Regions from separate parts of the Homo sapiens genome. Here region 2 is linked to region 1. The links come from fine-mapping of genetic effects on gene expression. Tissue or cell type: whole blood. Region 1 holds a variant in brackets; the other region holds the start of a gene. All regions are shown on one strand. Distances are from middle to middle.

Region 1 (4,489 bases):
TCTTGAGGTTAAAAGGAAGGAGATCTTCAAATGGTTAATGCTCAGTAATGACTATGGACATTCTTCTATTTTGGTTATAGAGAAACAAACCCTGGATTTTTGCTTCTTAGTTTTCTTTTGGATTACTTAAGGGGTGAGTATTCTTTAGGTGACGGTGCTGATTATGATCCAGTCTATGATTAACACATTTATTACCTAATCTTTTTCCGGGTAACTGAAGTTTAATGTTTGCTGAATTATAGTTGATTGAGAAAGAGGACCTTAAGGAGAGATTTCAGCATCACTTCCACTGAGATTTATTTTTAAAAAGGTTATAGGGTGGTTATTGCCATGCTATTGAGATATCCAGGTGAGCTTTGCATATTTCAGATGCAATTCTCTGGTACAGTTCTATTTTCAGTAAACCTACCCCAATTTCAAAGCTCTAATCAAAAAAGAGGTTGTATTGGCCAGATGCAGTGGCTCACACCTGTAATCCCAGCACTTTGGGAGGCTGAGGCGGGTGGATCACATGAGGCCAGGAGTTCAAGACCAGCCTGGCCAACATAGCAAAACCCCGTCTCTACTAAAAAGACAAAAATTAGTTGGTGTGGTGGTTCACATCTGTAATCCCAGCTACTTGGGAGGCTGAGGCACAAGAATCGCTTGAACCAGGGAGGCGGAGGTTGCAGTGAGCCAAGACTGCCCCACTGTACTCCAGCCTGGGTGACATAGCGAGACTCTGTCTCAAAAAATAAAAATAAAAATAAAAATAATTTTTTTTTAAAAAAAGGTTGTATATGTAATCCCAGCACTTTGGGAGGCCGAGGCAGGCGTATCACCTGAGGTCAGGAGTTCAAGACCAGCATGGCCAATATGGTGAAACCCTATCTCTACTAAAAATACAAAAATTAGCCGGGCGTGTTAGTGGACACTTGTAACCCCAGCTACTCGGGAGACTGAGGCAGGAGAATCGCTTGAACCCCAGAGGCAGAGGTTGCAGTGAGCAGAGATCATACCACACTGCACTCCAGCCTGGATTACAAGAGCAAAACTCCATCTCAAAAAAAAAGAAAAAAGAAAGAAATCAAAACTTAAACACACATTATTTTATTTGATCCTTACAAAAATTCTCTGAGGTAGACAGAAGAGGTTTCTTCCCTGATCACAGAAGAGAAAACAAAGGCTCAAGGAAGTTAATTATTATAACTATTCTACAGCTAATAAGTTGGTTATGCAGTCATTAAGTCTTTATTGAACATCTCTAGCATCCAGGCATTGGGTTAAGGAACCGGGACTCAAGTTCAAATGAATCACACCTCAGTGTTGTTTCTCTTATTTGGAGTAGTTCTTTAATGCATCAGTTTTAAAAGACTGAAAGTTTTAAACTTAGGGTGGCTTTCTTACAACTTAAAACTGTTTAATAGAGAATTCTTAATTCACATAGTATAATATAATATACCCAGCAACATTCTGCAACAGGCCAGGCGCGGTGGCTCACGCCTGTAATCACAGCACTTTGGGAGGCCAAGGCAGGTGGATGATCCAAGTTCATGAGTTCGAGACCAGCCTAGCCAACATGGAGAAACCCTGTCTCTACTAAAAATACAAAAAAAAAAAAAATTAGCTGGGCCTGGTGGCATACTCCTGTAGTCCCAGCTACTGGGGAGGCTGAGGCAGGAGAATCACTTGAACCCAGGAGGCGAAGGTTGCAGTGAACTGCACTCCAGCTGGGACGACAGAACAAGACTCTGCCTAAAAAAAAAAAAATTATGCAACAGTTGACTACAATCAAAAGAGAAAAGTAAAGGTTGACTTTTCTAACTATGGTATTTTGCCTGCTAGGCATTCTAGGTTTTTATTTTAAAAATTTCTTAGGAAACTCCAGCTGTTACAAGGAAGTATTGCTTTTGGTTTAATGTTTTATCCTGCTAGTGCACTCCACCCTTAAGTGATCTTGGTGACTAATAGGACTGGCACCAGTTCTCACTTACCAGATGTGAATTCCACTTACTAGTTTGTTTTTTGTCTTCTGCTAATTTGCAGTTGTAGACAAAAACGGAGTAAAGAAGTTCTTAAAATAAATGAAAATCGGCAATGTAGTCGCTCTTTAATTTTTGAATTGGCCTGGCGCAGTGGCCTCACCTAAGAGTCATATGGTTGTTA[T/G]GTTCCCTGATGTTAGGGGGCCCTCCCCTGCAGCCCACAGTGACTCAGAAGGCAGCTGCCGAGAACAGGAAGGCCTGGGGTTCATGTGACAAGCCACCAGCCTTTACCAGAGCAAACAAAGTAGGTGGGATGTTCCCCTGTCCCCTGCCCACCAGTTTTATAACACATTTCAGGGCTTTTTTTTTCCCTTCCTCAGACTGCTCTGAATTTTCTCTTTGACCTAATTTGATTTGTGGAGAAATGCTGTCGAAAGGGCCTGCTGAGATTTTGTCCTGGCCTGCCTCACTGAAGAAGGCCAACAATCTGTTTGCATAGCAAGAATGAAAAAAATGTTTCTGTGCTTCAGAGATTACTGAATACTTTTTCCAAAATGAATCTGTTCCTTCTAGCAGGGATCGTTTTGCTAGTTGGGAAGATAAAGCTGTCAATATTCAGTAGCTAATCTCTAGATTTCTTTCTGTGATGGAGTCTAGCTCAGTGCAGGCTGAGGGGCAGTGGCACGATCTCAGCTCACTGCAACCTCCCACTCCTGGGTTCAAGCGATTCTCCTGCCTCAGCCTCCCAAGTAGCTGGGATTACAGGCACGCGCCATCACACCTGGCTAATTTTTGTATTTTTGGTAGAGATGGGGTTTCACCATATTGGCCAGGCTGGTCTCAACTCCTGATCTCAAGTGATCCACCCGCCTTGGCCTCCCATAATGCTAGGATTACAGGGGTGAGCCATCACATGTAGCACCAATCTCTAGATTTCAAGAGACCACATATTGTCACAGCTTCTTGGAGATTTTCTTCACTGGATTTAAGTCATTGTTCTCCAAAGTGTGTTCTGAGAGCTACCTACATTTGAATCATCTAGATTAAGGTATCATCATCTCTACTAAAGGACCTTGTAATCTGTGTTTTTTTTTTTTGAGATGAAGTCTCCCTCTATTGCCCAGGCTGGAGTGCAATGGTGCAATCTTGGCTTACTGGCAACCTCCGCCTCCAGGGTTCAAGCAATTATCTGCCTCAGCCTCCCGAATAGCTGGGATTACTGGCACCCGCCACCACACCCAGCTAATTTTTGTATTTTTAGTAGACATGGGGTTTCACCATCTTGGTCAGGCTGGCCTTGAACTCCTGACCTTGTGATCCACCCACCTCGGCCTCCCAAAGTGGTGGGATTACAGGCGTGAGCCACTGCGCCCGGCCCGGAATCTGTTTTTAACAAGCACTACAACTCCCCAGAATTCTTTTTTTTTTTTTTTTTTTGAGATGGAGTCCCTCTCTGTGGCCCAGGCTGGAGTGCAGTGGCGTGATCTCGGCTTACTGCAACCTCCAGCTCCTGGGTTCAAGCAATTTTCCTGCCTCAGCCTCCCGAGTAGCTGGGGTTACAGGCGCCCACCACCACGCTGGCTAATTTTTTGCGTGTATTTTTAGTAGAGACAGGGTTTCACCATCTTGGACAGGCTGGTCTTGAACTAACCTCATGATCCACCTGCCTCGGCCTCCCAAAGTGCTGGGATTACAGGTGTGAGCCACCGCACCGGGCCAAAATTTATTTTTTTGCACAAAATTAACTTAGCTAAATCAGAGTTCACAAGCCTTCACTGGTAATGTGACCCACAGGAGAGAGTCCTGGGGCAGAGGAGGAGTCTTGTTTATGCCTTTCCTGTTTCCATTCCTGTACTCCCTGTCCCTGCCAAAATGCCATTTCTGATAGTGTTGGTCACTGCAGAAGGAAACAGGAAAAAACAGGAAGGAACTGAGGAAACTTCAGTGTTCCCTCTTGATTACAGTAGTGTGGGAAACAGGCCTGGGTTTAGAAAGCAATGCAGCAGAATGCTTAAAAATCATTCACAAAGCTTGGTAAAACCACAGACTCCCCTTCTCCCCATTCTAATTAAGTGGGTATGCGGTGGGGCCTCAGAACCTATATTTGTAAAAATACCTACAGTGATTCTAATGCAGGTTGATCTGGGGGTACATCAGGATATTTCTTATTTAATGTACTGGAGCCCAGAGCTAGAAGTCCCCTTTGACAGCTGTCTTCAAACTGTCGGCACAAAGACCTAAAGTAATTTTACAATATAAAGACATCTGGGTTCTCTAACTGTCACAGGGCAACTCCCCAAACTGGGGATCAGCCCAGGAGGCCATAAGGGTTCTTGACTTTTGGCAGAAAAGAATTAAGGAGGCCATGGTGGCTAATGCCTGTAATCCCAACACTTTGGGAGGCTGAGGCAGGTGGATTGCCTCAGGTCAGGAGTTCGAGAACAGTCTGGCCAACATGGTGAAACCCCATCTCTACTAAAAATACAAAAAAATTAACTGGGTGTGGTGGCATGCACCTGTAATCCCAG
Region 2 (4,244 bases), 56 kb after region 1:
TCACTACACATCTCACCTTGGGTGTTATTCTTGCCACTGGTTTCATGTTCTCAGACTCACGAAGCTGAAAAACAGTTGGGGATGCAGAATTTGATGTGCTTCATCCTTTGTGGGCTTGAAGAGTCTCTTGTTCCCAAAATTATTCCCTGGGGCCCTCTGCTTCACAGGCAAATAAAAGCAAAAAGAAGCTTGCTCAGCCTTAAGTGAGGAAATGACTCACAGGTTTAAAACAAAAAAGGAAAAGATGGAGGCATTTTGTAGGTGAAAGGGCGAGAGTCTTCTGATGCAAAGTAAGAGGTCATTAGAGCAGGGATGGATTATCAATAAGCAGAGCAAACATTTGCTTAGGGAACAAACAGCGCCGGAACACGAAAAAGAAAAGAAAAACATAATAATTTAATTACTTAAAACACTGAAGATGGCAACATAGGAAAAAACCCAAACCAGAACATTTTTGGACTTCATAACATTTTATGGTTCAGTATTTATGGCTTAGTATTTTATTTTGAATTACATGTGGGGAGGAGGGGTAAAAATACTTTAATTTTTCTTGCTAAGTAAGTACTATTATATATTCAGGTATAATGGGATAAGGGATACCATTTTAATGGGTCCGTTTGGAGCTTTAAATATGATCAACAGTATCTGTGTGCATGCAAGATTGGTTAAGAAACTGGGTTAGACCGAGTGCGGTGGCTCACGCCTGTAATCCCAGCACTTTGGGAGGCCAAGGCGGGCGGATCACGAGGTCAAGCGATCGAGACCATCCTGGCCAACATGGTGAAACCCCGTCTCTACTAAAAATACAAAAATTAGCTGGGCGTGGTGGCCCGCGCTTGTAGTCCCAGCTACTCGGGAGGCTGAGGCAAGAGAATCACTTGAACCCGGGAGGCTGGGGTTGCAGTGAGCCAAGATCGCGCCACTGCACTCCAGCCTGGCGACAGAGCGAGACTCCGTCTCAAAAAACAACAACAACAACAACAACAACAGAAAATGAAAACAAATTGGGGTAAAAGTCTCTGAGAGCTTCCTACAGTTACAACTCCAAAGCTTCACAAAGCCAGTCCCTCCTGGCTGGAGCCAGGGACTCCAACGCTGTGGGCCTCTCAGGGGGCGGACCCGCGGCGCCAGCGCCTGCTCCCTTCCCACCTCCCAACCCTCCTCTCTGCTGTATCCTCCCTGCGAGCTGTGTCGGGGGCCGGGGGGGGGGAGTGGGGGCCGAGGCCGGACAGCTTCATCTGGAAATCCCCCGCCACTCACGGGGGAAGAAGTCCCACGAGCCCTATCTGGCCTCGGGCGCTGGCGCAACTTGTCTGCTCAAATAATCTCGTTCCAAATCTGTGCGTTTTACACAAGAAACAAACAAACAAAACAACAACAACAAAAAAACACAACTGGGACTCAGATGACGTTTTAAGTTGTCTTTGAAAAACAATGCATAACCCTGCACGTATAAAGTTGCCTATGTCACATAACCCTAGGCAGCTGTCATTCTGGAGTGATCTGGAGTTAAGTTTTTTGTTTTCTTTTTCTTTTTTCTTTTCTTTTTTTTTTTTTAGACAGGGTCTCAGTCACTCAGGCTGGGGTGCAGTGGTACAGTGGCGCGATCTCGACTCATTGCAGCCTCGACCACCTGGGCTCAAAAGATTCTTTCACCTCAGCCACCCACCCGCCTGCCCCCAACCCCGCTAAACAGCCGGGACTAGCTGGGACTACAGGCGCGCGCCACCACGCTGGGCTGCTTTCTTTGTATTTTGAGAGAGACGGGGTTTCGCCATGTTGGCCAGGCTGGTGATTCGCTCGCCTCGGCCTCCCAAAGTGCTAGGATTACAGGCGTGAGCCACCGCGCCCAGCCGCCACAAAACTTTTAAAAGTTATTACTTCGCTAAAAATAACAGCGTAGAAGCCATTGTGCAGCGCCACGCGATCTCGGCTCACTGCAGCCTCGACCTCCCAGGCTCAAGCGATCCTCCCATCTTAGCCTCGCAGGTAGCTGGGGCCACAGGCGCACGACACCACGCTGGGCTATTTTTTAAAATAAAATAAAAATCTTCGCCAGGCTGGTCTCGAACTCCTAGGCTCGACAGATCCTCTCGCCTCAGCATCCCAAAGTGTTGTGATTACAGGCGTGAGCCACCGCTTCCATTTTTAGAGTTCTATTCTGAGGACTAACGCCGTTCAACAAGTTGGTGTGAATTTGTTTGCATTTTTCAAAACCCCAAAGCCGGCCTGGGCGCCATCCCCATTTGCCCCGGGCCTCTCAGGACCCCGACCACAGGCAGGACCCCGACCACAGGCAGCGCCCCGACTCCAGGCAGCGCCCCGACTCCAGGCAGGGCTACCTCCAACTCCCAGCCTCCCCAGGCCGGGCCCCCGCCCGGCTCCCGACAGGCTCCTCTCCCCGTGGCGGGGCCCCTCGCCCAGGCAGCACACCCTCTCAACCCGACCGGGCCCCCACCACTCTAGGAGGGCCGGCGTTGGGGGAGGGCGCCGGGACGTGCCCGAGGGTGACACTCGGGCTTGGGACAGGGCGTGCTGCCGCGGGTCACGTGCTGCGGAGGCTTGGGGAGGGGCGGCGAGGCGGGGTTTATAGCCCGGGCGCCCGCGGGCCCCACGCTTTGACCGGGTCGTGGCAGCCGGAGTCGTCTTCGGGACGCGCCTGCTCTTCGCCTTTCGCTGCAGTCCGTCGGTGAGTGCGCGCCCAGTGGGTGCCCCAGCGAACCGGTCCCGGGCCCCCAGCGGCGCCCAGTTGGGGTGGGGGGCTCCCCGGGGCCTTGGGACCGCTGCTCTGCTCCCCGCGGGGCTCAAAGGTGGACGGGACGCGGGGGTGATGGTCCGAGACCCCCCGCTCGCCTCGCGGCTTCCAGGTCCTGGCTGGGTAGGGGCGGTCTGCTGAACCCGCGCTTTCGACCCTTGCCTTTGTGCGTTGAGGCTTCTTTCCTGCCAACAGATTTAGGGCGATTGCTATCGAATGTCCCTTGGCCTGCTTGGGTGGTTGTGGGAAAACAATATTTGTCGAAGGGACATTATCGAAAGGGAAACGCGTTAGAAAACCGCATTTTTTTTTTGACGGAGTCTCGCTCTGTCGCCCAGGCTGGAGTGCAGTGACGCCATCTAGGCTCACTGCAACCTCCGCCTCCCGGGTTCAAGCGATTCTCCTGCCTCAGCCTCCAGAGCAGCTGGGATAACAGGCGCCCGCCACCACGCCCGGCTAATTTTTGTATTTTTAGAAGAGACGGGGTTTCACCACGTTGGTCAGGCTGGTCTTGAACTCCTGACATCAAGCAGTCCACCCCCCTCGGCCTCCCAAAGTGCTGGGATTACAGGCGTGAGCCACCGCGTCCGGCTTGGCTAGCATTTTTGTTAACAGATACTCGGAGAAACAAGAGAAGTATGTCAACAACTTTACTTCTCCCTCCTGAGTATTGCAAGTTTACACATAAGCTCTGAAACTTTGCCTCAAAAGAGGGAGTGGGGTTGTGTGGGTGTGGGTCTTTCAGGAGGGGGACCTGGAGAGCTGGAGAGAGGAAAGAAGTGCAGAAGACTACAGGGAGCTCACCCTGCATTTTTCTCTACTTGTAATCAGCATTTGCTTGGGTTGGGGAATGAATTTGGGAGAGTCTTATCCCGGTGTTCTGAAATAAGTCTCTTTTCTGCAGATTTCTTTCTCCAGGAAGAAAAATGGCATCCGTTGCAGTTGATCCACAACCGGTATGAATTTTGAGTAGCCTTTGTCTACTTTCTCTCCTTTTGTGTTTTGAGAGATTAATAAGCATACCCTCCCTACTTTGATTGCAGAGTGTGGTGACTCGGGTGGTCAACCTGCCCTTGGTGAGCTCCACGTATGACCTCATGTCCTCAGCCTATCTCAGTACAAAGGACCAGTATCCCTACCTGAAGTCTGTGTGTGAGATGGCAGAGAACGGTGTGAAGACCATCACCTCCGTGGCCATGACCAGTGCTCTGCCCATCATCCAGAAGCTAGAGCCGCAAAGTGAGTTCTGATTTTTCAAGATGCAAGTCAAGGGACTGGTCAGTGGCGAGCCCCTGAGCTCACAGCAGTAACATCTGGAACTCCTCAGCCCTTCCTGGGGCATACACTGCCTTTACCTAGAAACTTTCAGGTGACCCTCATTACCGTAAGAGGACTGTTTCTTTTCTTTTCTTTCCTTTTTTTTTTTTTTTGAGATGGAGTCTCACTCTATCACTCAGGCTGGAGTTCAGTGGCGCAGTCTTGGCTCACT

The links. PIP is the estimated chance that this variant, and not a neighbour inherited with it, causes the effect.
Region 2: PLIN2 starts here. The variant in region 1 is fine-mapped to the expression of PLIN2 in whole blood (TOPMed, PIP above 0.99).

Annotation. Positions count from the first base shown.
Region 1 is chr9:19,182,143-19,186,631 of GRCh38, reverse strand. No RefSeq gene overlaps it. Among named protein-coding and RNA genes, the nearest start is that of DENND4C, 46 kb to the left of the region's middle. RefSeq lists enhancers at 1-128, 2,107-2,156. The variant T/G (reference allele first, on the strand shown) is at 2,146.
Region 2 is chr9:19,125,864-19,130,107 of GRCh38, reverse strand. It overlaps PLIN2 (perilipin 2), which reads left to right and starts at 2,616. Exons shown (of 8, transcript NM_001122.4): 1 at 2,616-2,689; 2 at 3,660-3,711; 3 at 3,799-3,994. The coding sequence starts at 3,682. RefSeq lists a silencer at 2,278-2,837 and enhancers at 2,350-2,859, 2,860-3,370.